Linked DNA regions of Homo sapiens: regions 1, 3 and 4 are each linked to region 2. Evidence: fine-mapped expression QTL. A gene starts in region 2. Each other region holds a variant in brackets. All regions are shown on one strand. Distances are from middle to middle.

Region 1 (7,914 bases), 750 kb after region 2:
GCTATTTAAAGGAATTTTAAATCGTTATTTAAATCAATAGTTATTTAAAGGAATTATATAGCTAAGTTCTTTTAAAAACATCCAATCAATCAATATGCCTTTGTGAAGCATCTCTTTAAAAGTATACCGTTTTACTTATGTGGTTTTTAATGGTAGATTGGTATAACAGCAAGAATTTATTTACTTTGCATTATTAGGATAGTACTTTATAGAACTTTATGGTTCCTTCAGCCGTGGGGTTCTGTCTAATCATGCATTTATTATTTATTATTTTTATTATTTAGTAGAGATGAGGTCTCACTATGGTGCCCAGGGTGGTCTCAAACTCCTGGCCTCAGCAAGCCTCTGCCTCATCCTCCCAAAGTGCTGGAATTAGAGGTATGAGCCACCATGTCCAGCCTGGTCATGCATTTTTGATCACTGTTCCTTCCTTTAGTTTGTATCTGATTGTAAACAATCTATATACAGAAGTATTGGCTTAATTCCAAAATAAGCATAGGAAAGAGCTTGAAGTATTAGAAAAATAGAAGGAAGGAGAATGTGACTGGAGTCTAGTGAATCACGGCTGAACATCATGCATGTATAAACACCAAGCAACAATCAGGATAGATACCTAGGAAGTTCTTTATGAATGGCTGTGATTTTTGTTTCCAGTATGTGAGTTTGTTATTTATAGAAGACCACACTGAGGACCACTGCAACCTGAAAAACTCACTCTCAAGGAGTTCCATGACTTATGAAGTTAGTAAGGCTTTCTTGGATTGGAGGAAAATGTGCATAAGGTACAGTTAAGCCCCTAGTTCTCCTTCCCTTCTGGAGATCAAGTGACTCCCCCTCAAGCAGGAGGCCAGCCATTAATATATTCAGGAGAAACTGAACCTGAGAAGCTCTGGACTCCTTTGTACCAGACCTGGTAATGTAAACATGTCAGCAGGGTGGGGAAGTGCAAATGGTTAAAAAAGAAAAAGTAAAAGAAACAGACAATACAGGAAGATAAAGAAGACAAAAGCAATTGGTGTAATTGAAATCCTAAGAATAACAAGAAATATTGCTTCCAATAAAAACAAAAACCAAAAGGAAAAACTAAGATATTTATGTAAAGAAACAATCAGAAAAAGTTCCTGGAGATTAATATAAAATCATGTAGAAGATCAACTAGATATTGAGAAAATTCCTGGGGAAAATAGAATCAAAATATAAATAAATGGAAAATAGAAAAAAAAAGAGATAAGAAAATTATCAATCCAGTATTCCAACATTAAGCTAATAAATATTAAATAAAGAGAGAACAGAGAAAACAGTTTAGGAAATTGTTCAAGAAATCGGGCACAAAAAAAAATTCCATAACTAAAGTACAGGCCTTCAGGTTAAAAGAACCCAGTAAGAGTTCAGCAAGAAAAGATTCACATTTTTTGTGCTGTTTCGTAACACCTGGAAAAAGCAGAGGATCCAAAACTTCCCAGAGAGAAAAACAAACATTTAACTACAAAGACTCTGGAATCAGAATGGCATTAAAATTCTCAAAAGCAACACTGAAGTTAGAATATTATGGAGAGACACCTTAACATTAAAAAGAAATGTAATTTTCAACTTAGCATTACATAGCCCACCAAACTATTATTCAAGTATTTGTATAGAGTAAATATATTTTTTGGGATGTGAAAAGTCATTTGTGATTCTTGTGCTCTTTTAAATGAAATTACTGTGGGATAAGCTTTGGCAAAGTAAGAGGATAAACAGGATAAGTGACATTATGGAACCCAGGGAAAGGAGATCCAATTCCTAAAAGGAAGTCCTCCCTTTCTCCCCTCTCCCCTCTCCTTACCTTCTTTTCTTCTTTTTTCCCCTCCATTTTTCCTTACCTCCTTTTCTTCTTCCTATTTTAAGGTTGAAAGTGGTATAAGACTTTAAATCCTATAACCCGGAATCCGTGGGATTTTACAGCTCTTAATACTATCGCATTTCCTTTTATCAAAAGGAAGGATGCCTTTGGCATCCTATTTTTAATGAGTCCCATGGTTATTGGCAGAGTGGTGGTGAGATGATCCCAAGAATAGTGTGGCTAGGAGAGAGATGCAGTGGAAGAACTCATGTGTTGATGAAGAATATTAGGAAAGCAAGTTGAAAACTTCAGGAAGAAGAATGAAAATCAGAACATATTTTCCCCTGGACAGATACCAACGGGATTAAAACTTGGTGCGGAAGTTTGAAGTCTTAGCCTGTGAAACATCCACAAAGCTTTCAGTCTTTTTTATGCTTCCATTAGGATTTTCACATAATCTCTTGAGGATCATGAGCTCAAATTAACTACAAATATACTGAGAAGCAATTGAGGAAATTTTTTTATAACAAGTTCACTTAGTTATCAAAAAATAATTTTAGAAGGGAAAGGACAATTATTTTGCTATGTATTGCCACTCAAAATCTGTGGTACAAATTTTTTATAGAAACGCATTGTCCTATAGTTCATATTGAATGAAATAATAAAGTAAATCAGCTCTTTAGTCCACTCTTACATAGCTATTACGTTTTTATCAGTAAGGTGTCAACTGAGCAAACATTGTTCAGATGAAACCATTGATTCCATTTCACTATATTATTCATACCTCTACTTTTATGAAAGGGACAAAATGGGAGAAATTGGTTGGTACCACAAGAAATGGAAAGCAAGGGGTCTGTGGGCTGAGTAACTGTTCTCTGTATGATCACATTATGATACATCATATTACCTATCTCTATTGGTAAATTGAGTATATGAGAATTAAGTGTTAATGACATGTTTCTTAAATACATTTTAAAAGCTGGACATTTGAGAGACAATAATGTCTGTGTCGGACTTTGCCTGTGCAACCCCAGCTCCAGTGAAGGGGCAGAGCTGTGTTTGTGACTCAGACTCCTTGGCTTCAGCTGAGTAAGTTGGATGAGTTCTAAGGTATTTTTATTTTCTTCCTTTCTCATCTGCCCTGATATGCTTGCTTCCATTTCCTGTCATTCCTCTCTTTGTTTTTTCTAAAGGGAAGCAAATAGAGTATGTTCAAACCTCTATTTGATCTGTATACCATGTTTACTGCTCAGCTAAAGTTTGCCTTCACTTAAGGCTACAGGGAAATTACACTTGCTAGGTTGTGGATTTTGAGCCAAATTATACAGTTTGTGCCATTCCTTCAAGAAACAAAGCTTGAGCGGAGGTGTATATGAGTAACTATTTCTCAGTCAACAGCTAAGCAGTTACCTGGAGTGCTCTAAAAAGTCATGCTTCTTTTCCTTGTTCAGGGAAAAGGCTATTAAAGAGATTAATAAACAATGGTAAATGTTATTCTGTTTAGAAGATTTATGCAATTATATACCATTTTTCTTCTCTTTCCACCTAGCTGAGGTAGCAGTTTTTGTACTTACTTTGAGTCTAAGTATGTGATACACAAGAAGATATTGCCTCGTAGAATGAATAATGAGAATTTGGTTGAAGGACATTTATGAAAACAGACACAAAGTTAAAACTGAGTTAATCATTTTAAGAAAATCCTGGGTTTTTTTTGTTTTTTTTTTTTTGCTACTAAGTTGTGAGAGGGAGTTTCATCTATTTTATATTTTATAGACTGGGTTTGTAGGTGGCTCATTCTGCATAATATGAGACATGGCATGAGGCTGGCCGTTGTGTACCTACTTGTGAATGAAAAGATTGACCCATTTAGATGTTAGCCTATGTACAATCCCAAGGATTTTTACCTTTGACTGAAGATAGTTTAGATCTGTT[G/A]TTTTTCTCTGCTGTGTGGTCTCTGGAAAATCATTTACTCTCTCTCTTAGTTTCTTTACATGTAAAATAAGATTATTAACATCTATTAGGTTGGTGCAAAAGTAATTGCAGGTCTTGCCATTGAAAATAATGGCAAAAACTGGATTACTTTTGCTCCAACCTAATACTTCATTGAGTAGGAAATACCTGCAAAATTCTTTAAAATGTATCTATGTCATAGTAAGTGTTCAACCAATGATATTTATTTTAGTCATCGCTATCATCATGTTTTGTATTACAGCCATTTGAACTGATGGCATCTGTGTTTCCCAGTAGACGTGGAGCTTCTTGAGAGTAGAGAGTATGTCTTTTTGTTGGTTTTTTTCCCTACCATAGGCCATAACACAAAGACATGAGCCAAACACTTTACAAAAGTTTAATTGAAATAATAAAAACAAGGATCTCAAACAACAGCTAATCTAAAATCTATATGTATTTTTAGTTCATGATGCTGACAACTTGGATGACTAGCAAAACCAAGTCACATTCTGTTAGCAGAAGCTGAGAGGTGGTGGGATAGTAGTCCTGGAACATGCTTGGTTTCAAGGAGAAAACATCTAGATTAGGAATTCATGTTTGTTAAATACCTCCAATGCCCTGCACTCCAAACATTTATAGATTTTAATGTTTGAAAGTTTTAGCTTAATTTGGATTAAGAACTATGCTACAAAGATATTACAAAGTAACTTTCCATTAAGGTGTGGGATTTTGGGTGTTTGTATGCTTTCTTTTGACACATTCAAAATGGCACAAAGCTAAACATAAATCTGTTTTGGAATGAGTCAGGAAACAAACAAATAGTGAAATGAGCTTGAGTTACACTCAAAGGTAAGCATGCTGCTGGCAATTATCTGGGCCATATATGCCTATTTCAACAACAAGTGTGATAGTAATTATAAAATGCCACTAAAATTCTATATTGCTTAAGATGGAGACAAAACTGCATCTCTTTCTCTCTCTGCTGTGTTGATCTTATATCAGTACATTTTTTCTTCTTTTTTATCTTTTATTAAAAAAGATTCTACTCTCCTTTGGAGATATCTGTTAGGAATGGGAACACATTTTTCTAAAATAGAGATTTATAAAATTAGATATCAAATGTACTTTTCATGGCAATAACCTGGATTGCATTAATTGTGTATTCTAATGTCTCTCTTCCTAAATGTCACTAAAGCAGCATAATCTATGAAAATTTATAACAAATAAAAACCTATTTCTTGATGTATGTGCTCCTGGAATGTTTTTCTTCACATTTTATCCCAATTATAAAATGTGTAGATATTTGGGTTGCACATGGCCTGTATTGTTTTTAAAATAGTTTAAGCCTTATTCACAAGGTAGTTGGTAATCCAAGTATGTTTTCAATATTTTTCCATTTTTTGTTACAATTAATGATACTTAGCTTATCAAGAGTGTTGTTTTATAATTAGCTTATCAAGAGTGTTGTTTTATAATTGCCCAGTCAGATATCAATGAAAGAGATTAATAATAGTGAATTATAAATGGAAATCAGTCTCTTAGTATGAATTAATAAGTTGTAAGAAATTGATTTTTCATTTCTTTTTCTACTTCATTAAACACATTAATGCCTTAAAAGCTACTCCATGTTTCTTAAAATCTGGTTGAATAATTTGTCAAGACAGGTCACATTTAAAAAATCCCTTGGGTTCTTTACTAGTCTTGTTTTAATATAACTTTGGACAAACATCATTTTAAATGCTGACTCTTTTGTCTTTCTGTATTTAAGTGCTGGCTTCATAATTCAATGTCCTATGAGCAACAGACAGCTCAATTCATGTCTGGCTAATGTTTTTATTTCTTGTTTTTATTGAAAGTGGTACATGGGGGCACATTAAGTGGCACATGAAGTTCCCCTGAGATCTTGTAAGTAGGAGGAATGAGATTATTCTCTGAGAATTAAATTATAAAATCAATGGATAGTAGATCATAACAGAGATATGTGACCACTTGGAAAAAAATGGATTTACTGGCAGGGCCAGAGCAAGACTTGACTGAATAAATAAATAAACCTAAAGGAAAATTAACAGTCAAAGGAGACACTATTCAGCAATAAAGTCAGAAACAATTGACCCAGAAGAACAAACATTAGCTGTGTCCAGTCTAAATACAGAAAGAACATATTGGCCAATGGTTTTATTGTGGACATGGTGCTTTGGACCATCATCTGACTAATGTAACTTACTTCTGTTGTGATTTTATGCTTCTTGAGGACCCTTCCCATTAAAGTTTGACTTTCCTTAATGATCTGCCTTTGGGAGAGAAGAGGTGGTTATGCCGATGTCAGTGTTTAAGGAGGTATGACAACCATATTTCTATTTATAAATTTACAAGTTGGCATTATGATTTTATACATCATTCTCTGTCTATTAGCTGAGTGAAATCCACCCATGAAAGATGGATTTGACTCTCAAATTGCTGACTTGTAGGTCCTTAAGCTTATGTGTTTTATGGCCAGAACCAATTGCTTGTTGATTTTATCACCATAATGCAACTCTGAAACCTCAGAGATAGATTTACATGCAGATAGATTTACATGCAGAGACAGAGAGCAAGAGAGAGAGAGAGAAAAACTGCATTTTCTTCTTTGTCTGTCTTGAAAAACACTACTCAAAGCTTGATCAAAACTCTTTTTTATTATGCTTTAGCTGTATAGTCCATTATTTAAGTGATAGATTAGTGGTTTATTCAATGATCTATTAATGAGGTGGGCTATAACAGAGTACTGTAATAGCTTTCATCTTTACCTAAAAGTACTTTATGTATGTGTATGGAGAGGCAATCAATAAAAATAAGCAGCCTTCATACATAAAAGCTGTTAGAATGACACCACTTACTTTGGCTTAGTATTTTAGAGTTTATAAGGAAATTTCACATTAATTCTCTCTTGATCCTTTCAGTAACTCTGTGAAGCATGCAGGAGAAGTATTATTATCTTCAGTTTGCAGATTAGGAAATTGTGGCTCAGAGAATTTAAGAGATTAGCCAAGATCTCATGACTAAGAAATGACAGCCAGCACAAACAGCTGTGTCTTCAAACACTCATCCAGTGCCCTTCCAATTAGGTTACTCTGCCTTGCATATAGAATTAAAGAAATTTTTTTAAAAGGTTCCGAAAGCTAATGATTGACTATAATTTATTTTTACAAAATACTCCCATTTTGCGTATTTAAACTATGATAAGATGGAGAAGATGACTTACAGTTAACCCATTCATGACATTTTTTTTTATCATGCACCTACCTTGTGTCAGATGCTGAACTGGAGGTACAATGGGGTACAAGGCAGATAGGGTCTCGTAAAACATTTTAGTGTGGAAGACACTCATTATGTATATAATCAAACAAATGACCATGTGTGATTGTGATAACAGATGGGGAGCTTGAGAGACCTTCCTCAAGGGTGACATTTAAGCTGAGGCCCTTTGGATAGTAAGTCGGCCAGATACATGGCAGGGGTGTCTCTTTATTAAGAGCCATGTCTACAAAACTGGATCACCTTAAACAAAAACAGAGAAATTGATTTCTTACCACAACTTTTTGTCCGTATCCTAGTTCTGGCATGAGAGAGATGAAGGCTGGGAGGAAAAAGAAAAGAGATGCTACTTTAAATGAGCTAATCCATGATAATTAATTACTATGGCTTTTTGGTTCTCATTATCATAATTTAGCAGAAGCTTTGAATAAAAAAAGTCCCACAAGATTCAGGGTTGTCTAATAGGATATTGTGTCTCATAAAAACGATTAGTTAGAGGTCCAAACTTAATTGTCTTAATAAGCCACTTAATCATTCAGGACAGACAAGAGAAGCCACAAAGGACCACAGTTCTAAGGCTTTTAGTTTTAAGTTTTCAAAAGCTCATTAGTTAAGCACTAGGATGAAAAGCAGAGTGCAACATTACTTTATCCAAAGAGCCCAGTGATTGTTAAAAAAGCTCATTAGTTAAGCACTAGGATGAAAAGCAGAGTGCAACATTACTTTATCCAAAGAGCCCAGTGATTGTTAATCTACAATTTGTGGAGTTGCTTTGTATTAATCCTCAGTAGCATGAGGAAAATTTTGAAGGAGTCCCTATACAGTGATGATAATAGGCATCATCAAGA
Region 2 (7,914 bases):
TTTCATCGTAGCATTTTTATTGTGTGCAGTAAAAACATTCACAATTTTGTTTGCTGTTGATGATCTGAGTGTTTGGTTTTGAAAAAAAATTAACAAAGAAGCCAATTTTGTGAGTTATTTTTCATCACAGAGGAGAAATATTCACCTTAGCACTACCTTTGTTGTGGCACCTTTCCATCTCCATGAAGAAAAATAGCCATCCAGTCCAGATTGCAAGTGCTACTCAGTATCCTTCTCACACATATCTTACTAAAAATGTTTTCACTGACTTTTTCTTTATTTAACTATCAAGTATTTGGCAAATTAATATCTTGAAAGACATCTTCATTATAAATATTATTTTAATGATAAAATTATTAACTTGTAAATTTTTATCTAGCTCTAAGCAATTGGTTTTTATCTTAATTCGTTTCAGTATACTATTGTCATTCACTGAATGCCCAAGAACAGGGAATCTATCAAAAATGATTAAGATCATGTCAAAAGGACACAAGCACTAATTTGAAAGGGTATGCATTGGCTAAAGATGTGGTAATAGGAGCATTAAAAAGGTAATAATAATGATAGCAATACACTGATGCACACCAAATATGTAAAAATCCATGAGTTCATAAAGATGTTCCAAAAAAGAAAGTAATCAACCACCTCTGGAGAGTACTAGATCAATTAATGTATTCTGAAAATTACTAAAGAAAAAGTGAAATATTAAACTTCATTGCTTTTTTAATACATATTTAATACATGATATTTTTAATACATATTTGCAGCCTCTGTGTTACCAAAGTGGATTTGGCCATATTTGTAATGTAAGGCTTCAACACATTTTCCTATGATGTGAGCTTTGCCTGCTAAGATGATTCTGAAACTAACTTTGCCCAATTTTGCTTTTTCTATAATTTCATATGAATGCAATCATTCAGTGTGGTCTTTTGTATTTGACTTCTTTCGTACAGCACTTTGTTTTTGATATTCATCCATGTAGGAAAATTTTTTATTGTTTTTTATTGCTGAATAGTATTCCACTGCATGTGCTCATCACAATTTGCTTACCCATTCACTAGCGCTTTTCCTGCATCTGCTGAAAGGATTGTTTTTCCCCCTTTATTCTATTAATCCTGCCAATTACATTGATTGATTCTCAGATATTAAAAAAGCAGCTTTGCATTCCCAAGATAAGCCCCACAGGTCATGATGTATTGTCCCTTTAAATGTTGTTGAGTTTCATTTACTAAAATTTTGTTCACGACTTTTGTGTCTATGTTTATGAGTGATATTGGTCTGTAACTCTCTTTTGAAGTCTTTCACTGGTTTTGGTATCAGAGTAAATCTGGTCTCATAAAATGAATTCAGAAATATTTTTGCAATGCTCATTTTATGCCTTGCAGAACTTTGAGAAATATTACGCATAAAGTGTAACATGACGGGTGTCATTCAAATATATGTCTCAAATATAAAATAATCAGTTTTTGCCTTGTTCTTTCTTTTCCTAATTTCCGTAACAAACATGTCCTATTCGTCTTCACATCTAGTTTGAAGTTAGCTGAATTAGTGAGTGATTTATAATCACAGATTTCAGAAAATTAGAGCTAAGTGATTTTAGGGACTGTTGTCACTATATATCTAGGGGGGGAAACTGAGGCCTTTAGAAGTTGCCACGCTCTTCCAGTACAGAGTACCTTCCCACGCTTTACAGATTCCCACCATGTAACATTCATTAAAAGCCTTTATGGGTAGGAAATGAATAAGGTACCTGCTGTGTATATATTTACATTATAAAGTTTACGTATTCATTCTTACTCTTTTTCCTTCCTATGAAGACACACACTGTTCTTATTCTTACAATCTCAAAGAGAGAGCAGCGAAACAATGAAACTTCAGGATTGTGTGGCCTGGAGGCTACTAGTTGAACTGGGCATGCTCAGTCGCCAGGCAGATTTTTTTCGGTGAAGTGGAAACTACAACAGCGCGTACCGCGCGCGGAGGTGGGCGTGCCCTCGTGGAATTTAGAACGTTGCCTCAGCCAATGGGGCCTCGCGGCCGGCTGGCGGGGCTCCTCATTGGAGCAGCAGGGAGGCGAGCAGAGGGCCCCCAGAGGGAGCCGCGGAGGTGCAGGTCGAAGAGGCCGGGCTACGTCGTGCCCTGCGCGTGAGCAGCTGCAGAGGCAGAGGCAGCATCCAGCGGCGGCGCCAGCAGTTCCAGTCCGTTGCTTTACTTTTTGCTTCACCGACATAGTCATTATGCCGAAGAGAAAGGTAAGTCTTACCAAAAAAAGATTTCAAAAGCCTTCAAATTCTGCTTACAGTAAATGCTGGCATTGCAATGGCTCGCGCAGAACGCGCGCGGTAGTAACCCGGGGATTGGGAATCTTTGCTCCTCCACGCTTGTTTTTAGATGCCTGTTGCAGACGTTCCTCTCTCTGTCCCCCCTACCCACTCCGTCCTCATCGATCTCTTAATGTTACTTTCTCTCCAGTGACGCGGTTTCCCTTCTTTTTGAACTCATTCTCGCTGGAATGTTTTCCACCCCCAACAACAAGAAGCAAAAGCGGCTTTCCATTCCGAAAGGGAGTTTCCTCTTTGCAAACTGCCAGGTTGCGAATTAGTGTGAAGGGAAAACAGCGAGAGGAGAAAAACAAGTACAAGCGTAAGGAGAGGGAAGAAAATAAATCAGGCAAATGTTGGGATTATTCCCATGCGGCTGTACTCGCGGGCTGGGTGCGCTGCGGTGGCTCCTAGGCTAAGGGAAAGAGAAAGCCATGTTTAAAATAGCGCTCACCCTCCTGCTCGCCTCCGCTGCAGACCCGTATGTACCAACTCCAGTGTCAATCAGGGCTGGGGCCGGCGAGGCGGGGCCTGGCGGCCTGGACCTACCCGCAGTTCGGGGCGGGAGCGGTGGAGTTGGCAGCGTGGAAGACGGGACGGCGCCGGGGCGTCCAATATGGCTCGTCCAAGGTCAGGGGGCCACCAGGTCCTCCCCAGCGACTGGAACCCACACTCGGTTGGGGAAGGCGGGGTCCGCGCGCTATCCGCCCCTCTGCGCGTCTAGCGAACTGGAGTCATTTTTGTCTTGTCTTCCGCCCCTTGCGGACTGTCCTCTTCTGCGCAGGCCCCGGACACCAACTACTACATTCAGGGACACAAATCTCCCTCGGGGTGGGGCTTCGACTTGTCCCGGGGAGGGAAGGGAAAGGTTTCCTCCTCCCTGAGAAATCAGTGAGGATTTCTCAGCTGGTTCCTAAGCAAGTGCTTTGCACCCTCCCACCGCCAGCCTCAGTGTTTCCAACAGTGTCAACGAGTGTGGGTATTAAATTTGAAGCAAAATTACACCTAATGTCTTGCTTTATCAAAGACCATGGACTAATTTGTGTGTGAGAGTGACTGCATTATTTTAAAATACTGAAGTTTTAAAAATTCAAAAGCTTTCCCCTTCTTATATGTTATTACTAAAAATTGGGTAGAAACTTGTCTCCTACCCCACTTTTTAAAAATAATTGAAAGTGTTTAAAAGTCTTAGAGTTTGTTGTGCACATACTGTGTCCCTCACGCTGTGCAGAATTTGACTTGCATTATCTCATTTAATCCTGAAAACAGCTTGAGCGGTGTTACCCCCATTCAGCTGGGACTTAAAGACATAAATTGTCCTGCATCTCACCAACCAATAACTACTAGTAAAGATTTAATCAGATGCTATAGATGCCAAAGTCTTATTCTCACCCATTTCGTACTCACTTACGAAAGGGTGGGTCAAGAGGAATTAAGGAAATCCAAAGGTACTCCCAGTTTAAGAAGACAGATGGCATATTAAGAGCACTAATACTTGAGATTTATTATTTAAACTTAATTTTATGAAGGTATTTTCTAGCCCTGTTTTACTAGAATTAGGATATTAAGTGATGTCACCATTTTCAGCATTTTGACTGAGGGTTAATGATGGATTGGAAATTCTAGTAGAGACAAAGGAACTAATCATCAAGATACGGGTTACAGAGTAAGTGAGCTGGAGGCCATCTTTTTTTCCTGGGAATTATAACCATTGTTTACATAAACAGTAGGTTAGGTGTGCACACTTTATGTATAATGGACCCTGACGATGGAACCCTTCCTTGCTGTTTATTCAAGGGCCAGAGCTGCTGAAACCATTATTCTTACTTCCCCTGTCTGCCTCTCTCAAGGAGACGGAAGGAAAAAAAAAAAAAACTAAAATAACAGTAAAATTACAGCTACAGTTTTATTTCCCTGGAAGGCAGGGAACCCCCATGCATAAGCTAGCCAATGGTCCTGAGACTAGGGGCAAAACTGTGTACAGGCACCTGTGTGTCATTCCTGAGGACATCAGAGTGTTCTCCGGTGATGGAAAACCTCTCCTTGATTAATAGGAAGGCTTTCCATTTATACCTGAAGCCTAACGACCTCAGTTGGTACCTGGGCAGGAACAACCTCAGATTAAACACGGCGATCATGGCCATCCATCTATCAGTCAAGTCTTAGAGCAGCCTCATGGAATCCTGAAGTTCACTGGAACTTATGTGAGGAACCACTGTCATTAGGTAAAGCCTGCTTAGATACAAAAAAGAACTGGAGACAATCCATGCATAGCTCTTCAAGATCTTCAAAGCTGGGGTAACTGCCAAAGCATTTACATACTACACAATATTTTTCTTGACTAAAGAATTGTCTGCTCTACAATATAATAAGCTTTTAAAATGTCCCCCTAGTACTTTTTTGCCTTCTTAGCCCCCTGTATCAACCTTTCCTAGAAATCAAGAAATGTTATTTAATGAACATCTGAGTAAGTTGTTCTGCAGAGCAAGAAGTGGTACAGATAAAGTCAATGAAAACATCTGGAATCCTAGCCCTGTTGTAATGCTGTAGGGACATACAGTTTTTGCCCTCTTGGAACTTGTGTTTAATTCAATGAGGTGATAAGACTAGCAGCACAAAACAGTTGAATAACATTAAAACTGTGTATGTGTTCCAGAATGTGTAGTTATAGATCCCACAAGCAGTAGGACAGATAAGGAAAGTTAACTTTAGGCTGGTCTTAAAAGTGTGGGTAGGACTCAAATATACAAAGAAGTCAGAGTCATTTTTTGTTACCAGGTATTCAAGTGTGTCTCCTGATTGTATCTTAACATGACCAGGCCTCAGTTTTGCAACTTCAGGGCTATAATATCATCTGAATTAATATTAAAATGTTCTGATGACATTTCTTTGTAAGTTTTATGTGTATCTTTGTGTGTGATAGTCATAACTACATTAAGCCAAGTGGTTTTTTATAAATGCCATAGTATTTTGTGAAGTAATACAGCACTTAGTGAAGAGTTCTTCAGTGCATATTATCTCTAAGTTTGTGAGATGTAAATAAAAGTGAGTTTCCTGTATTTTTTAGATAATGGATGGTGGGTGAGTGGAATTACAGGGGAAATGATAACATTCATGGACTCAGTGGTGAGACAATGAGTGATTGAGTTCTAGACTGTTCTGGCCAGACATCCACAAATGCCCGCAGTGGTCATGTTGTTATGTGATGATTTGATGTTCTACGAAGAGACATGAGCCAGCGAGGCCTAGAGTCACAGTCCTGGCATGATTAGCGACAGGAAACACATTTTTACCTCTTTCTTTTTATTAATATTTTCCAGTTCCTTATCACTAGAACTATTTTAAATGTCTAGTGTATCACATCAGAAATTCTCTAATGAGGCAATTTTCCATGAATGTGGCATGTAAGCAGTCATGTCTCTTGACACTTAAAGGTTTAAGGAAGGAAAGCCCATCTGCCTCTAGCTTTGAAACTCAAAATTAGGTTTTTATCTGTTTCCTTAAAATGGAAGGCCCAGTAGCAGTAGCATTGGGCTTATTAGCACAGGGGATGCTTAACTAACCATGATCAAGGTTTGTGATAGTTAATTTTGAAAAGAATATTACTTGTCATAACACCAAAAACAGAAACTGTAAATGAAAACACAGATAAATTTGGCTACATGAAAATGAATATTTCAATATGGGAAAAAAAACTGTTAACAAAATTTTTAAATTTATGAAAAACTGGGAAAAAATATTTGTACCACATATCACTGAAAAAGGTTTGCTGTTTTAAAAAGATAGCATCTCACATTTCCTTATGGAAAAGATGTATATCTTTATAGGAAAATAATGAAGACTCAAGTAGACAGAAATGTTTGGTTTTACTAGAAATCAAAGAAATGTACAATATTAAGAATAATGAGATGTAATTTTTAAAATAACCAATCTGGTTTAAAAAAAGATTAAAAACCTACTGGCTAGTGCTGAGGGATATAGACACTCAGCACTCTCAGTTATGAGAGTATAATTTCCTTTAAAACATTTATTGAGTATAATCTACTTACTATAAAGTCCATTCATCCATTCGAAGTATACAATTCAGTGATTTTTAGTAAAGTATAGAGTTGCGCAACCATTGTCATAATCCAGTTTTGTAACATTTCCATCATTCCACAAAGGTCCCTCATGGAGTTTATAGCCAATCCCCACTCCCAGCCTAGCCCTAGGCACTAATCTACTTTTGCTGTATCTAGATTTGCCTTTTCTGGAAATTTTATTTAAAAGAAATGATACAATATGTAGTCTTTTGTGACTGATTTTTTCACTCAGCATGATGTTTTTGAGATCAGTTTGTGTTGTAGCATATATCAGTACATCATTCTTTTTTATTGTCCAGTAGTGTTCCATTGTATGGATATACTCATTTTTGTTTATCCTTTCACAAGGTGATGGACATTTGGATTGTTCCAGGTTTGGATTATTATCAATAATGCTGCTGTGAATATTTGTAAATAAGTGATTGCATGGACATATATTTTCATTTCTCTTGGGAAGATTTCTAAGAGTAGAACTGGCAGGTGGTATGAAAGTCTATGTTTATCATTTTTTTTTTTGGAGGCGGAGTCTGGCTCAGTCGCCCAGGCTGGAGGGCAGTAGCGCGATCTCAGCTCACTGCAAGCTCCGCCTCCCGGGTTCACACCATTCTCCTGCCTCAGTCTCCCGAGTAGCTGGGACTACAGGCGCCCGCCACTACGCCCGGCTAATTTTTTTGTATTTTTAGTATACACGGGGTTTCACCGTGTTAGCCAGGATGGTCTTGATCTCCTGACCTCGTGATCCGCCCGTCTCGGCCTCCCAAAGTGCTGGGATTACAGGTGTGAGCCACGGCGCCCGGCCGTCTATGTTTAACGTTTTAAGGAACCTCCAAACTGTTTTCCAAAGTGCATGCGTTCTAATTTCAACATACTTGTTCATACTTGGTATTGTTGATTTTTTGCTTATAGAGATTCTTATGAATTTTAATTTATATTTCTGTAATAACTACTGACAATAAGCATCTTTTCACGTGTTTACTAGCATAATGTGTATCATATGTGAAATGTCTATTCAGATATTTTGCCCATTTTTAATTGGGTTGTCTTATTATTGAAAGAGTTCTTTATAAGTCTGAGATACAAGTCCCTTATCAGATATATGATTCGTAGATATATTCTCCCAGTTTGTGACTTAAAAATATATTTTTTTCTTAATGGTGTCTTTTGAAGAACAAAAGTTTTTAATTTTGATGAAATCCATTTAGTGTTAATATCTAATAAATATTTGCCTAATTCAAGGTTATGGATGTTTTCTCATAGAGGTTTTATACTTTTAACTCTTATATTTAGGTATGTTATCCATTTTGAATTAATTTTGTGTGTGGTATGAGGTAAGGGTTTAAATTCATTTTATTGCTTGTAGAAATCCAATTACCTCAGCACCATTTGTTGAAAAGACCATCCTTTCTCTACTGAATTGCCTACGCACCTTTGTTGAAGCTCCTTCATAAATGTAAAACTTTATTTCTGGACACTCAATTATGTTTTATGGTCTGTATGTCGTTCTTATACCA
Region 3 (7,914 bases), 190 kb before region 2:
CATGGACTAAAGGGACTGTCTCCCTTCAGCTTTTAGAAAATTCTCATACTCTGGGCCAGCTTAGCCGATAGTTTCCAAGCTGCAGGAACAGCTTGAGGCTGAGGGCGGTGGTCCTGCTCCATCAGTCGTGGGAACCAGGTGGCTCCCGGCATCCTCGGCTCTCTCACCTCCACGCTGCTGCTGCCGCATTGATCCTCGACTAGCGCTCTGACTCCTCAACACTCTACCACCTACCAGCGATATCTCTGAGAATGGTGCAAAGTGGAATTTATTTGTGCCCTTGGTGTGTGTAACACAGCTCATCATGCTTTTAAAGATCTCCTCCTGGTTTCTGCTAACAGCCTTTGCTTGCTTCCTGCAGTTCTGTTCATCACACAGCTAAATAAACCTGCTTGACGTTGCCATCTCTCAGGAGTCCAACCAGAAAACACACTGAAATCATATACTTAGGTGAGATGACATCAAGGAACAATGAGATAAAACAACTCAATAACTAGGAAAAAAATTTTGAATGCACAAATATTTTCTTGTCAAACTTTAAAAAGAGAAAGAAAACAAAAATATTTTTAGAAATTTGAACATACCCACAGTGGTAAAATATGTCCTGCTCCCACATTGCATATTTTCCTGGGTATAACATTCCTATTTTAAAATCATAGCAACAGATTCAAGAAACAAATGTCTTTGAAAATTCCATTTCATGGAAGTGTCACTGTATGCATTTAAACTTTTTTCCTACTGAAAATTATTGCAAACAGCATGAAAAACGTCAACACAGGAAACAGAATAAAAGTAATGGATGATCTTAAAAAAACAGAGGGATAAAAATGTCCGTGAAATACTATGCTCAAATGACTAATGTTAATATTTAGGTTAAATTATTCCCTGTAGGCAAGAAAATAAGATGCCCACAGAGTAATACATAAAATAATAGTAGCAGGGAAAATAAAGTTAGAAAAGTCAGTAATATATCCAGATCATTTTAGAAAGCTGACAGAGAGAATATCCAACAATAAAATAAAATTTGTTCATATTGCAAAAGAACAGAAAATTTCAGATTATTGTTGATTTTTCCACTATACCAAAAACATTATTAGATGTTTTATGTTGCTTTTGGCCTGTAATATCCAGATTATCTGTTCTATTTCCTCTATCACTTTGCAGATGTCTTACTTTTAATTCTGTCACTCTCTCCAATGTATATACTCATTCACTTATTTTTAGATTTCTACATATAATTAAACAGTATTCATTCATTTTCCTAAATACAGCCTTTTCTTTGGAATCTTTACCATTAAAAAGTCTAGATGTTGAATCCTACTTTCCTGTTTTCCCGTCGACATTTGCTTTCCTAGATTCCAAAATAGCAAGTATCTCAGATGTACCTCACCATTACTCCATTTTAATTGAAGTCTTCCTGTTAGAATTATGTTCAGTACCCTGGGAGTTACAGTACAATGAAGAAAGTCACAATTAAATAAACAAAATAAAAAATAAACTGGAGGGTAATATGTAGATATTTGTCTGCAGGAAGTGAAGTCCAAGCTCCCTGTTAAAGAACAGGAAGGATTTAAGTGTAGAGAAAAGGGGAGGCTGTTTCTATGTACCAGGCTGTCACTGCTTATAGTTGCTTACAGCCAATTCCCATATTAATCTCCTTATATCTTTGTATGTATATCCTAATAGTCCTGTTTCTCTGGAGAACCCTAACTAATACAGAGAGTGAGCTGTTTATCATTATCAGAAGGGCCTTACAGTGACATAGCCTGGCACATAGAAGGGGTGTTATGTATACCACTTAGCCGCAGAGGGGAAACCTAGACACTGGAGGGATGCCTGGCAGAGAGAGGGATAGAAACAGTTTTTCTTTGCTTATGATCGACGATCATAAAAGCCATACTGCTGACAAAGTCCAGCGCCAGCTCTAGAAGCTGTTGTATCCAACCTGCCCTCTTTAGTTCCACTGGGAGAAAGCATGGTCATTTACTCACTAAATATACCCCAAACCACACCAGAAGAAATAGGACCCTGAGGTCAGGGCCCATGATGAGCCACTCCAGGGGAGCCCTGAGCATGATTACAGTGTTTGGTAATGAAATGTTCCACACTACTCTAGATGTTACATTGCATATTGACTACCCAACTCTCAACACACAGAGAGCCCTTCTGGAACTCATCAGCATCTCCATCTACCATCACTGAGTCTTTTTCATTCTAATTAAGGGTTTCCAATTCTTAATTGCCTAAATCTCTCTGAGGGAGTCTCAATACACAAATCACAGATTGATTTGTTTGTAGTGGGACAAAATTACTGTTTTCCCCATAGTTTTAAATTCTCCTCTAAAGATCTATAAGAACCTGTGATTGGGGTCATTCTTTATATAAAGTAGTAGTGTATTACAGGAGGGAAGATTCTGAACAACCCAATCCATCTGTAGACTCACCATAGCACAGGATACCAAGGTTTACAACCAGGCTCCAAGAGTGGAATAAAGAGAGGAATGAAGATTAGAGAAAAGCCTTTGATTTTCTACTCAATATTCGAAGAAGTGAGGGTGAACATTCACTCTTCCTTTAAAATCAAGCCCAGAATCCTTCGTATTTTTGTCAGTGGCCATAGAGTATATTAACATCCTGGAAAGTCAGTTGTTCCAAGGGCACTTTCTAGATCCTCTTGGCCAGAAAACTGTCTTCCTTAAACCCAGAACCACGGCTTCCACTGCTTAATCAATAATAAATGATTGCCTCCATTCTGGCAGAGCTAGATGTCTGTAGAACTGATTGTCATGAAGAAAAACCTTTATCATTTTTTCTCCAATTTTTCCAGCTATCCAAGGACATTTACATTCTCAGTTACGAGTAGCAAGGCATGGGGCTATTATTTTAAATTCTGGGCATCGTTCTAGAAATACAGGAATTAGGAATAATCTTCTGTGGAAGGATGTCTAAGTATTGCAGGGGTTATTTGGACATCAGTGACAGCCTGGTGCATACTTCCAGTTGAAATAGTTAAGAAATCATATACTAGCTTCCACTGAGTTGATCTAGCTAGGGCCTCATTTTCATATCCTACCATTTTGAGAGGTAGGAGTTCTTTAGAAAAAGATTGGTTCTAAGTGTCAGAAATGACAACTCATGTCAATCTGTGTGCTAACTTCCATCAGAATACCTCTTGTTTTAGTATTAGGTATGGTTGAGTTGCACACAATTGTCATATGACTCAGTCATCCTAATGATTTTTCATTCTCTCTCTTTTAATGGTCAACTGATTAAAATAAGATGAACACAGAGCCTCCCAGCAATGAGTATCTCTGGGTGCACTCAGCTCCCTGGCTTCTGCTTTGGCTTATCATCTAACAATGCCTCTGACTCAGACTGTCTCCCACCAAGGCTGTATTTTGGTTGCCTGTTTCTACCGTGTGATCAAGACATTGGATGTGCCCAGATCCCAAGGGCCTTTCGCTGCCCTAGACACTCCTATCTAATCAGTATGAAAAATGTCCAATGTAGTAAATGCCACTTTAATTATAAGCTTGCTTCAACTGGATTAGAATCAAAATAAGCATGCTTAAGACAAAAATTAGGTCTGAGAAAGCAAAATTAGCAAAAGAGCTTCAGGGACAGGAATCCATTTCTATTTCAAGATTAAGTGATTTTCTTCTGTAATTCTCATTTTAATATTCTCTTTTCCACCATAAACCTACACCATCATCCAATGCCATGCATTTTTACTCAAGTAATTGTATTCTTCTTACTTGCCTTTCTGGTATGACTTCAGGTATACTGCCTTTCTGCACTTCAGGGCACCCCTAGTTTTGGATGCAGATGCTAAGCGTTAAAGCTATAACAGTAGAGGTTAGTAAGCAGTGGCAACAGTGGCTTTAGAGTTAGACTTGGTTTAAAATTCTGGCTCCAGCACTTGTTAGCAGTGTAATCTTTCACAGCATATTTACCCCTCTAAGCTTCAATTTCCTAGCTATAGAATAGTAAGAATAATAGTTATTTTGCAGTGTGATTTTAAAGACAAATCAACCAATGTTGATAATGCCTTTGGCAAGAGGCCTGGCGAATGCAGTATACCACCTGACAAATGCTACTTGTTGATATGAGTAGGAAGATGCTCACCAGATCCATGTGTAAATCTGGAATCAGGAAGACTCAAGCTCTGATGCCATCTCTAGCACTTAAGAGTTGTGAGGCTCTGGGCAAGTTGCTTAACCTCTCTTTGTTTTGCTGGCTCTTTTGCAAAATGGAGATAAAAACAGCTGTCTCACAGGTGTCATTTCTGGGTGCTGTGTTGATTAATACAAGCTTCTTCTAAAAGTTAAGGCTCAGCGGTATTTGTTTATAATGAATAAAGTGACCACCACCCGCCTTTGAAATACCCTGCTAATGAGAAAGAAAACATGATCATAATCTAAAGCTTTCCAGCGGCAGGTATTCTTGTTCTGTCCTCATGGCCATAAATAACACCTTCTATTCAATTTGTCCAAATTGTTCCCTACCAGATTTCCGACTACAGGCCAGGATCTCTGGCACTAAAACAGGCAGAGTAATGAACAAAGTGTTCTCTGCTTTTTATGCATGCTACAGATTTGGAGTACAGTAGGAGGGTAACCAGTGAAGCTGAGCCTAGGTCAAGGATGATAAGAGACTCCAAGAAACCACAGTGGTCTATTGTTGAAAATGTTGAAGAACCAGATACCTCAGTTGTTCTAAAAATAGGGGTCCTTTTTCTAAGCAGATATAAAAATACCGTCTAGAAACCAGCTATATCATAACAAGATATATAGAAGACAGAGTGTCATGGTTAATTTTACGTGTCAATTTGACTGACACATTAAGGGATGCCCAGATAGCCGGTAAAACATTTCTGGGTGTGTCTGTGAGGGTGTTTCTGAAAGAGAATAGCATTTGAATCAGTGGACTGAGGTAAAGAAGAGCTGCCCTCGTCAACGTGGTCAGCATCATCTAATCTGTTGAAGACCTAAACAGCACAAAAATGCAGAGGAAGAGCGAATTCTCTCTCTCCCTCTCTCTCTCTATCTCTCTCTCTGTCTGTCTCTCTCTCTCTCCATGAGCTGGGACACCTGTCTTCTGCTCTGAAATACTGGAGTTCCTGGCCTTCTGACTCTGGGACTTATACCAGCAGCTCCTATTGTTTCTCAGGCCTTTGGACCCAACCTGAATTACAGTCTGAATTTGGAGTTCTCCATCTTGCAGATAGCATATGATGGGACTTCTTTGCTTTCATAATCATGTGAGCCAGTTCCCATATTAATCTCCTTATATATGTATATCCTACCGGTCCTGTTTCTCTCGAGAACCCTAACTAATACAGAGAGTGAGATGTTTATCATTAGCAAAAGGGCCTTGTGACAGGTATACTATTGTCCCTAATTATTTGCTGCTACTCTCTGTAAGAAGAGTATACTTCTCCACCCCATTGATGGCAGGTT[TG/G]GTCACATGACTTGATTTGGCAAGTGAAATATGAGCAGTATGCCACTTGCAAACAGAATCTTTGAGAGCCACTGGTAATTCTTTGCTCTTAGACATTTCTTCAAAACATCTTCTCTAATGATTTCCTTATGCAGACCAGAAGTCCCTGTTGGACTTAACTGGACTCTTCTTGAAAAGGTTGCAAAGATCAGCTAGTAGTATGTTTAGCATTTCACTTTACAATGTGGGAGCACGTCGTTCTCAACTTTGGTTTTCAGTCAACACAAACTTACACACATACACACACACACACACACACACCCCTCACATATATTTATATTTATATATTCTAGACTGTTGAGTAAATTCTCTGTCTTTTGTTATTTTCTGTGAGATCATGTAACTTCTTAATGCAGTTGGAAAATGTGGTGCAAATGATACTGTTGTAAATGAAAGAACTTCATCAACCTCTAATTAGAAGTTGAATAACTATGTGAACAGCATAATAAAATAGCCCATTTTAGTAATCTACAACAGAAATTAGTTCAGGGAAGACTTTATTGAAAGGATAAGACTAACAAGCCCTTATTAAATGCATTTTAAAAATATTTCCTTAACTTCTGGACCAACACTGTCCAATAGAACTTCCCGCAATGATGGAAGGATTCTACGTCTGTGCTATCTGATATGGTAGCTACTAGCCATATGTGGAGTACTTGAAATGTGGCTAGTGCAGCTCTGAAGATGAATTTTAAATTAATTTACATTTAATTAATTTACATTTAAATTTATATAGCCCCACATATGGATAGTAACAACTGAATTAGTGCACCCTAGAGCCTGCATTGAAAGAGTATCTTTTCCTAATAACTTAAGTATTCTTTATGTTACTATATTTGGAACTAAGAAGCTTATATGTATGTATATCTATAAGCTTATATCCATATACATATAGGCTTCTTAATTGTATGCACACACATACACATATACACACACACACCCATGCATACCCATGTCTATATCTTTCTAGTTATCTATTTATGCAAGTACCAGACAACTTTGCCCTTTTTTGTTTAGGCAACCATTGTATACCATTGCAGAGCTGAGAAATTATTGCCTGTTTTGTTCCAGACTTCCAGGGAGTACGGGTACTCCCACTGGAGATCTAATCTAGCTTTAGGGAGAAAATCTTACAGAAAAGTATTTCCTCAAGATGAAATTTGCAAAAATATAGTACCACATTTTAGAATCATAAGTCAAAGATGTTCTTATTGAATCCATCCATTGATCTAAAAAGAACTATTCCCAAATTATCCTGACAATTTCCAATACTATATTAACCAATCTCTATACTTTAGTTCCTCTTCTTTTTACCAGAAATTAGTTATTCAAATGGCCAGATTTTAGTTGCCCCAGTCCTTAAATTGTAAATGAACTATATTTTTATTTCACTATAGAATTAAAGGAATTTATGTACCTCATTTTTAAGGAACACCACTGCAAAGGTATAATGTTCTGAAATCTGCTGTAATTATAAGAACACGGGATTTGGAAAATAATTTGGGTTGTGAAGACGTAATTATTTGGGAAGCCTGGAAAGCTGGAGGTAGGTCTACTATCAGGGACATTTAGACACTGATGGTCTTTACTATCTGTGGATATGACCTTCCTGGTGGACTTTCTCAGGGAGCAGAGACCAGGGAAATCCTTGTTAGTCAGGCCATATTGGTCCTGCCTTGGAGAGATTTCTTTTTCCTTGGCTAATTAACTAAGACATTTAATCTATTCTTAATGTGGGTGTGGTGTGTTCTTTTTCACTTTATTATAGAGCATCAGAAAGACCTGATTCTACTTCCTAGTGTCAGTGTGAGAATTAATTCATCTATAGGATTTAGTATAGCAACTAATATCATGCCATCAATAAATAACTGCTGATTTTTAAATTGAGTTTTAAAAGTAAAATGTAATTTTAACTAAAGAATAAAAATGCTTCTAAGAAGCATACGATCTTTTGGAATAAAGTAAAGGGCTATTCACTAGAAAAAGACAAAGCTGTACCAAGCATACTGACAACAAAGCCATCCCCAAATGTAAGATTTTAGTTTTCTATTAAAAAATAGAATATAATGGAATTAGTTCAAGATCAAGCTCCTTTCTATGGATAAGATAGGCACTAACAGCATTGACCTTTATTAATATGAGAAAAGGAAATTAATGAATATAAAGCAGGAAAGCTGAGACACTCTGAGGTTTCCATGAACTGCTTATGATTGCTCACATGCCAGACTCTGGAATATTTCCTAGATTTCATCTCTAGTTTCCCTCGGCCCAGCTGAGTGTAATTAATAAAACTCTAAGCACCTGCAAGAAGCTCCCAGTATTGTTTTAGGGAATCTTCTCTGTAGGCTAGTGGGAGAGAATGCTAGTTATCAAGTCTTACCTCCATAAAGGAAGTAATGCCGTCAGTAGGATTAG
Region 4 (7,914 bases), 190 kb before region 2:
AGCAGTCATTTAAATTAATGCTTGTAATCAAGCAACGTAAACACCATAATGCAAAAGCAGAACTAAAATCAACATTCCACCCTATAAAACAGAGGGTGAGGGAGAGTGCTGGTAATATTGACAAAGATACTTTTACTTTACCCATGTAAACATCAGACTGTCTTGTTCTCCCTAGGCTTGCTTTTCATTCTTTGGTATGACAGTTCTGATTCTTCAGCCTCCCCATGAAGAAAAGAAAAATTCTCTTGAAGCTGAACTAAATTCATCAGCAAATGAAATTATATTCATTTGATAAAATGCTAAATGGAAAAGGCAGGTTTATTTTAAGCCGTCAACAGGCTGTTTTAGTTAATCATGCACAGTGCAGAAGACAGGAGTTTGGTTGCTAAGAAAATGTTTGGCATGTTTCCACGAGATCCATGTGACGTGAAATGCATCTGTTCATTTCAATAGTGAAATAGAAAAAAATAAAATAAACAGTGCAGGGTATATTTGGTGAGTCACTGTGGAACACAGGGCCAAAATAACTTCTGTGTTGTCAGTTTATTCTATACAACCTTATTGTTATGATGTTAGCCTTTTCTTATAATTCAAAAAAAATTTATTTTAATAGTGATGTTTTGTTAGCAAATTAATACAAATTCATTGTAGATAAATCAGAAAATACAAAATAAGAAAATTAAAATCTGCTGTAACACACACCCACACAAATACCAATATCTATATTGGTATGTGCATAGTAGGGGCTTAATATTTATTTGCTAAATGAATTAATATATATTTTACTTACAAATATGAGATCATACTGTAATACTTTTATAACATGCTTTAGAAATTAAAAGACATCATAAACATTTTTACTGTGTTATTAAGTATTCTTCTTTAGCATAATTGTAATAGTTTTCATTATTATGGGACAAGTAAGTTATCTGGAACTCCTGCAAAATTTCTTCAGTAGCCAGGAACTGAATGCGAGCACCTCCCAGTAAGACTGATACTGTGGTGCTGATATGATGAAATCTGAACATGTTCAACATTTTTTGCTGGGATGTCATACATATTCTCTGATTACTGAGCTAGTAAATGGAATCTCAGCTGTCCTGATTGTGTGTAATTCTGTCATTTCTACCACCAGATAGAGACCATCACTGCTTACATAGATAACGTGCCATTCACATCCAGGTGTACTAATGTGAGAGAGAATGGCCAAAGATAGCAATGTGCTTGGCACACCCTTGCACGCCATCGTGATCCTCAGAGTGAAGTAAGAATGGCTATTGTCTTCCACAACATCTTCAAGGTTGCTGCTGTGAACAAAGAGGCCAAACAGAAGAGTATTAATTCACAATGTGGAAGAATATATTGATTAATGAAGCTCTTAATTACGTAGTCCAAAAGGCTGAGAAGTTCCACACCCACAAAAAAAGGAGAAGCAGAGAAATGTAGTTGGTATCTCCTAAGAACTCACTTAAATCTACAGTCTTCACTAAGGACAAGGTGGAAAATAAGAAAATTTAAGGCCAAAACAATGACGGAGGGCAAACACAAGATTCTTAAAGGTTCAATAAAATCATTAGCTAGCTAAACAAGAACCAGCCTGCTGAGAAGAAGAATCTGAGTATCAGCAGAAAAGCTGGAGAAGTCTGCAAGATCATCATCACAAGCTGTTACCAAGGAGCTGAAGACATATCAAGAGAAATGGCTTACCAGGGGAAGAGCTCCTCTGTCACAAGGTGCCTCATCTGAAGCCACTATTAAAGCGGGTGTCCATGCTGACCAGAAACAAAGCACATTTCACAGACCTACTGCAAAGTTTAAATATGTGACTAAGTCAGTTCAGTGGCAGTTTAAAACATATTTAAACATAAATTAACCTGTAGACAAATAGATCAGAAAATGTGTAATAGCTCAAACACAACAGAAGTTTATTTCTTGCTCACTTAACAGTTGGAGGCAGGTGTTTCCTGGTTGGTGGACGTTTCTTCTCCACTTAGCAACTCAGGGACACAAACTGATTTTGCCTTCTCTTTGTCAGGGCTTCAAATTCATCATCTGCCTCCAGTCAGTGAAAGAAAAATGAGAGCTTGGAGGTGGAACACCTCCTTCTTTAAAGCTCTGTCCCAGAAATTGTATTCATTACTAGAACTCAGTCATGTGATCTAACTGCAAGAAGGCTGGGATATGTAGTCCAATTGTGTACCCAAGAACAGAAAATGGTTTGTTAGGGAGGGGAGAAACAGCAACCATTATCTGAGGTTGCTTAAATTTGGTCATATTTTGAATACTTTAGTACATGCTGGCAGTGCTGTAAATAAGCAAAAATGAATCCGGCACCCACATTCTGATTGCCACCAACTTCGTGTAATTTTTTAAAGGTATATAAAATTCATGTGTCAATGCATAAAGATCCATTTTAAATTGATACCATAAAAAACAAGTGGAATTGCTGGGTCAAATATTCATACAGAATTCTCTGGCTTTTCATTAAGTCGTGTCTAATTGACCCTGAGAAATTGTTCAATTTACATTCTTACCTGCAGTAGGTGAGAGTAGCTGCCTTCTGTGCTATCATCGACATCATTGTTAACATTGCATACAGCATTCACATTTTAAAGTTTTTTAAGAGACACATTATGATATGGTAATTGAGAGAACAGACCCTAAATCCATACTGCCTGGATCCGAATTCCACCTTGTCTTTTTTCTTCCTGAGACCTTTCTGTGTCTCAGTTTTCTTATCTGCAAAATAGGGTAATAATAGTACCTATTTCATTAGGTAATATTCATCTTTGTGAGGATTAAATGCGTTAATATGTAAAATGTCTTGAACAGCACCTGATGTATAATGTCTAATGTCTTATGTTTTGCTGTTATCATTTTTAATCTGTCATATATGTTATAAGCATCTGATGCATAATGTCTTATGTTTTTGCTATGATCATTTTTAATCTGTCTTATATGTTACAAACATTTTCTTCTGCATATTGCTTGTCTTTTGTCTTTATTTATAAAGCACTGCTTTCCATACAGACTTTAAAATGCTTTTATGGAGTAAACAATATCTAGA[C/T]TTTCCTTTATAGCTTTTGTACTTCCAATTGTATCTTATAAAGGTCTATCTCTCTCTTTTTTTTTAAGTCATTCATGTCACAGATATGCTTTTTAAATTTTTTCTGATTTTCTTAGTCTGTTGGTATTGCTATAAAGGAATTTGGGAGGCTGGGTAATTTATAACAAAAAGAGGTTTATTTGGCTCATGGTTCTGGAGGCTGTACAAGAAGCAGGGCACCAGCATCCGCTTCTGGTGAGGGCCTCAAGGAACTTCTACTCATGGTGAAAGACAGACAGGAGCAGGCATCACATGGCAAGTGAAAGGAAGAGCTGGGGGAGAGAAAGGTCCCAGGCTCTTTTAAACAATCAATTCTTGTGTGAACTGATCGAGTGAGAACTCACTCACTACCACTAGGATGGCATCAAACCATTCATGAGGTATCTGCCCCACGACCCAAACACTTCCCACTAGGCCTCACATCCAACATTGGGGATCAAATTTCAACATTAGATTTGGAGGAGACAAATATCCACACTATTTCACTTGTTTTCAATTATAACTGAGAGCACAGTTTTTGTTGATTGTTTTGAGAAAGTCCTATCATTATTTTTCCTTAAAGTTTCTACATTAGGGGTTTGCTTAAAAAAACCCTTGCCACCCACTTACAGTTTAATTAATTTACCAACAATTGATATAAGTAGAGATATAACATTGCTTTCTAAATTGTTTTCTAATTATCCCATCATCATTTATTATTCTGTGCTCTGATTAAAGGGGCTCACTGAAGGTTGGTACCTCCCTCATTAACTTGACGGAAGCCACATTCCTTGTTTTGTTTTAAAGTCAGTTAAGAGATAGTTCTGTATGTACAGGCAACTCTCAACTACCAGCCCATAGATAACCCACTTTGGAGATCAATGAAATAAAAAACCAGACTGAAAAAAATCTTCTCAGCCTGGGCTCTTCACACTGCTTTCTACTGGGCTCTGCTCAGAAATGCCAGCTAACTTTAACTTTACATATGTCAGCTCGGAAGAACGATTTTTTAAAGGTATATAAATGTTTTACAGAGCTAATTACAAGTGAGTTTGGAAATTTCTGCCATCTAGCTATCTGTGCATTATGCTCTTCAATGATTACAAGTAATGGAAAGCTGAATGTTGTTTTTGAAAAAATGAAAACCACATGTCATTCCCGGAATCAGACACTGCTATGATTTTATAGAATAGAAATCAGAAGACAGAAGGGACTCAAGGAAATTTAGCAGAAACAAGTCACCCAAAGTAGACATAGATTTTTGACTCTGAAATGTAGAATTAGTCAATCAACAGCTCATAAAACTTTTTCTATAAGACCCCTCCTTTTCATGGAGGGCTCAAGTATTCATGAGTATTCTATGAAAAAGGAGTTCAAAGAATCTCAGATGTCATCACAGCTTTTCTTTAATCCAAAATATCTTAACAGAGGTATGGACCTTGGACTTCGAAACCTAGTCTTGGCTTGGCATGGGGGCTCACGCCTATAATCCCAGCACTTTGGGAGGCCGAGGCAGGTGGATCACTTGAGGCCAGGAGTTCAAGGCCAGACTGGCCAACATGGCAAAACCTCATCTCTACTAAAAATACAAAAATTAGCTAGGCATGGTGGCATGCCTGTAATCCCAGCTACTCAGGAAGCTGAGGCATGAGAATTGCTTGAACCCGGAAGGGGGATGTTGCAGTGAGACAAGACTTTGCCACTGCACTCCAGCCTGGGTGACAGAGCAAGAATGTGCCTCAAAAAAACAAAACAAAACCCAAAAAACAAAAAATCTGGTCTTAAAATAATTATCACTCAGTTATGGTCTACATCAATGCTTCTCAAACTATCTAAGGTGAAGAACCAGGGTTTTTTCCCATCCGAAAGAGAATAGTTCTGTGAAATATAATATAAATTGCTAGAAAGGTGAAATGAAAATATAAACAAATATAAATAGAAGCCCATTTATTTATTATTAGATTTAGCCAGTATAAAATTACTATGTCAAATTGCTGTAACAGTTTGTAAATCTAACTTTTAATTTCTGCTTTTATTTCATTGACAACCTAGTAACAGTTAGCAGGCTGATATGGATCCATGTGTCACACTTTGAGCAGCACCGTTCCATGCCATTTCTGGCCCCAAGCCAATGCATTTTTCAAAGCTAAAAGCTCCTATGACATTAGAGAATGGTGAAGAGAGAACGAATTTAACTGTTGTATATGTAACTAGAACAAATGTTACAACTTCCTTATTCCTGTGATCTGGTTATAGAGTTTCCAAAACATGTCTTTTGACCTGATATTTGGTTCTGAATTGATAAAATTATGATACACTTAGAATCCCTCACTCTGTACGTAATGTCTAAATCCTAAAATGCTGCTTGTATAGCATATTCCCTTTTCCAACTGTAATTTATTCAATATTTGTTTTCTATGCCTAATAACTTTTTAAAAAAATATTCAATGCCCATGAATTTAGTGCCATGTGGAATGGTACATAAAAGGAAACTTTACATTCTGGTTTTACTCCAGGTAAGAATTTTCCAGATTCCCTTTGTTCTATAGTTTCCTAAATGAGGAGCTCTTGGCCTCTTAGGCACTGGCTCAGCCTTTCTCTTAAACACTGAAAAGACTCCTTGGACCGAAATAAGAGCATTCATGGAGATCATTTTACTGACTTCCTTTCCTCTACCCTTACTCCTGCCCTTAAGCTTTCAGCATCTTTTGTTTTGCTTCTGATATATACCGTTCAGTATGATTAGACTGGGGAGGATACTAATAACCAGTTATGTTATCAAACTGTAGGGAACTACATTTCTTGACTTTCCTTGAAAAATATGGACTTAATCTTCCTGAGTAAAGAAGCATCCATTGTTATGTAGTTTATTTTATGCTATGACAATGGCATTTTACTGTTTAGACTTCAAATAGAAATTTTCTTCAGCAGTATTGCTTAATGTAACAAAATATTGGCCTTTAGAATATCTTCAAACATTTGTAGAGATGGAAAAAAATTAAACCATTTATTCACCTTAGGTTATAGTTCTTTCAACCACCTTTGATTAAAGCATGTTTAGAAAAAGTCAGTTTATGGTTAATATAGTAGGTAAAAGAATTAAGCAAAATTTTAGTGTTAAGTGTTCAGTAAAATGTCATTGCACACTGTTGATTTTATCACAATCTATCTTAGCTCATTGACCTTACTGACAGGTCTATCTTAGCATTAACCTTGTAGCTGATCTTGGTTTTTTGTTAATTGCCATCCTCTTTCACTCCTTAAATTTGTTATATTGTTATTTTAAAAAAGAAAAAGTCTGCTAATGTAAAGGTTCACATTTACCCAATAGATACCACTCTGAAAGCATTTATATGCTAATCAAAATATATGCTATGCATGGTTATACATATTAATTAACAACAACTATAAACAGATATTTTCTAAGCCCTACCCTAGATAAGTTTTAATTACTCACCAGAAGGATAAATTCCATTAATAGTCTTAAGAGTTTCTCTGACCGGGCGCGGTGGCTCACCCCTGTAATCCCATCACTTTGGGTGGCCTAGGCAGGTGGATCACATGAGGTCAGGAGTTCGAGACCAGCCTGGCCAACATGGTGAAACCGTGTCTCTACTAAAAGTTCAAGAATAGCCAGGTGCAGTGGCGCATGCCTGTAATCCCAGCTACTCGGGAGGCTGAGGCAGGAGAATCACTCGAGCCTGGGAGGCGGAGGTTGCAGCGAGCCGAGATTGTGCCATTGCACTCTAGCGTGGGCGACAAGAGTGAAACTCTGTCTAAAAAAAAAAAGAGTCTCTCTTGGTCTGCTTCAGAGAAAAGGTTGTAACACCTGGAAGAAAGAAAAGCTTTTCCCTAGGATGGGGAGAGAGGATGAGAAGACCATGGTGGAGTAAACCACACATGCCTGGAGCTATTAATTAGTAAAACTTGGCTCCAATGTCAACAATGTTATGACCTAAAAGGCTTCAGGCAAATGATAGAGTTTATGTCCAGTCCCAAGGCACCCTCCTGTTGTCCAGGACCTGTTCTACCACCTCCATGAAGTATCCCATCTCTTCCAGCCTCCTTCCTCCTCTGGAACCTTATTCCTTTCAATATCCTGGACACATGGCTGCACAGAAATCAAGCCTAGGGAGCATCACCATATTCTTTTACCTTGTTCATGAAACAGTGAGAACACCTCTAAAGCATTTCTAACCCATCCACATAACTTCAATACCTGGAATTTCACAAATGAAAACCTACTTCTCACATTCTTTTCACTAATTATCAAAACCTCTTGTGTTCGAGATAAAAACCAAGGCAACTATAGCTGCCTCTGAAATTTAGCGTTTTGATGAAATGCTACCAAAAACCATTGCTGGAGTATATATTTTCAATTCGAATAACTACCTGCCCTAGGGTCTGGATTAAAATGAAATAGAATAAGTATTTACACATAAATTGTTTGTTGAAGTGTTTTAAAGTAAATTACAGACCACATAGCACATTCCCTTTAAAAAGTCAAGCTTTGTGAAACAGGATTACATTTAGGATGTTCTCTTGCTCATTTCCTATTCATTCTTAACCCACAGCTTTCCAGCTCCCATCCCAACTATCACCTTGAAGGCTCCTGACAAGGCCCTTTATAACTTAGATGCTAAATCCAGTGTCAAGGTCCCAGCACAGTTCCTGAGATATACTTTTAAAGTATTAATGTTCTTTTCTGTAATTTTAGGCAAAGTCAAACATGTCTCAATACTATTTTTCCCTTGTCACGTACGCTCAATGTTTTAATTATAATTTTGAAAAACCTTGATTCAGGTATAAGACAGAAGAGTCTGGAAAAG

Which allele goes with the higher level. Alleles are on the strand shown, and positions count from the first base shown. SD is a standard deviation of normalised expression in the study named. Not every link is listed here.
For the expression in macrophages after interferon gamma of the gene that starts at base 3,124 in region 2, allele G in region 3 goes with a higher level than allele TG (large effect, 1.0 SD a copy in Alasoo 2018).
For the expression in lymphoblastoid cells of the gene that starts at base 3,124 in region 2, allele C in region 4 goes with a lower level than allele T (moderate effect, 0.60 SD a copy in TwinsUK).

The links. PIP is the estimated chance that this variant, and not a neighbour inherited with it, causes the effect.
Region 1: its variant is the best candidate, but not a certain one, in a credible set for the expression of HMGN3-AS1 in spleen (GTEx, PIP 0.55).
Region 3: its variant is the best candidate, but not a certain one, in a credible set for the expression of HMGN3-AS1 in macrophages after interferon gamma (Alasoo 2018, PIP 0.56).
Region 4: its variant is the best candidate, but not a certain one, in a credible set for the expression of HMGN3-AS1 in lymphoblastoid cells (TwinsUK, PIP 0.71).

Annotation. Positions count from the first base shown.
Region 1 is chr6:78,482,638-78,490,551 of GRCh38, reverse strand. No RefSeq gene overlaps it. Among named protein-coding and RNA genes, the nearest start is that of MIR10524, 53 kb to the left of the region's middle. The variant G/A (reference allele first, on the strand shown) is at 3,755.
Region 2 is chr6:79,228,884-79,236,797 of GRCh38, reverse strand. HMGN3-AS1 (HMGN3 antisense RNA 1) reads right to left here and starts at 3,124. Exons shown (of 2, transcript NR_040671.1): 1 at 2,871-3,124; 2 at 1-2,736. It overlaps HMGN3 (high mobility group nucleosomal binding domain 3), which reads left to right and starts at 2,116. Exons shown (of 7, transcript NM_001201363.2): 1 at 2,116-2,252. The coding sequence starts at 2,238. RefSeq lists enhancers at 1,998-2,787, 2,788-3,578, 6,596-7,096 and a silencer at 2,791-2,840.
Region 3 is chr6:79,423,345-79,431,258 of GRCh38, reverse strand. The region is part of intron 5 of LOC100506851 (a long non-coding RNA gene); the gene reads right to left. Among named protein-coding and RNA genes, the nearest start is that of LCA5, 110 kb to the left of the region's middle. The variant TG/G (reference allele first, on the strand shown) is at 5,460.
Region 4 is chr6:79,414,431-79,422,344 of GRCh38, reverse strand. LOC100506851 (a long non-coding RNA gene) reads right to left here. Exons shown (of 7, transcript XR_001744215.3): 3 at 2,535-2,739; 4 at 1,708-1,805; 5 at 142-1,307. Among named protein-coding and RNA genes, the nearest start is that of LCAL1, 110 kb to the right of the region's middle. The variant C/T (reference allele first, on the strand shown) is at 3,068.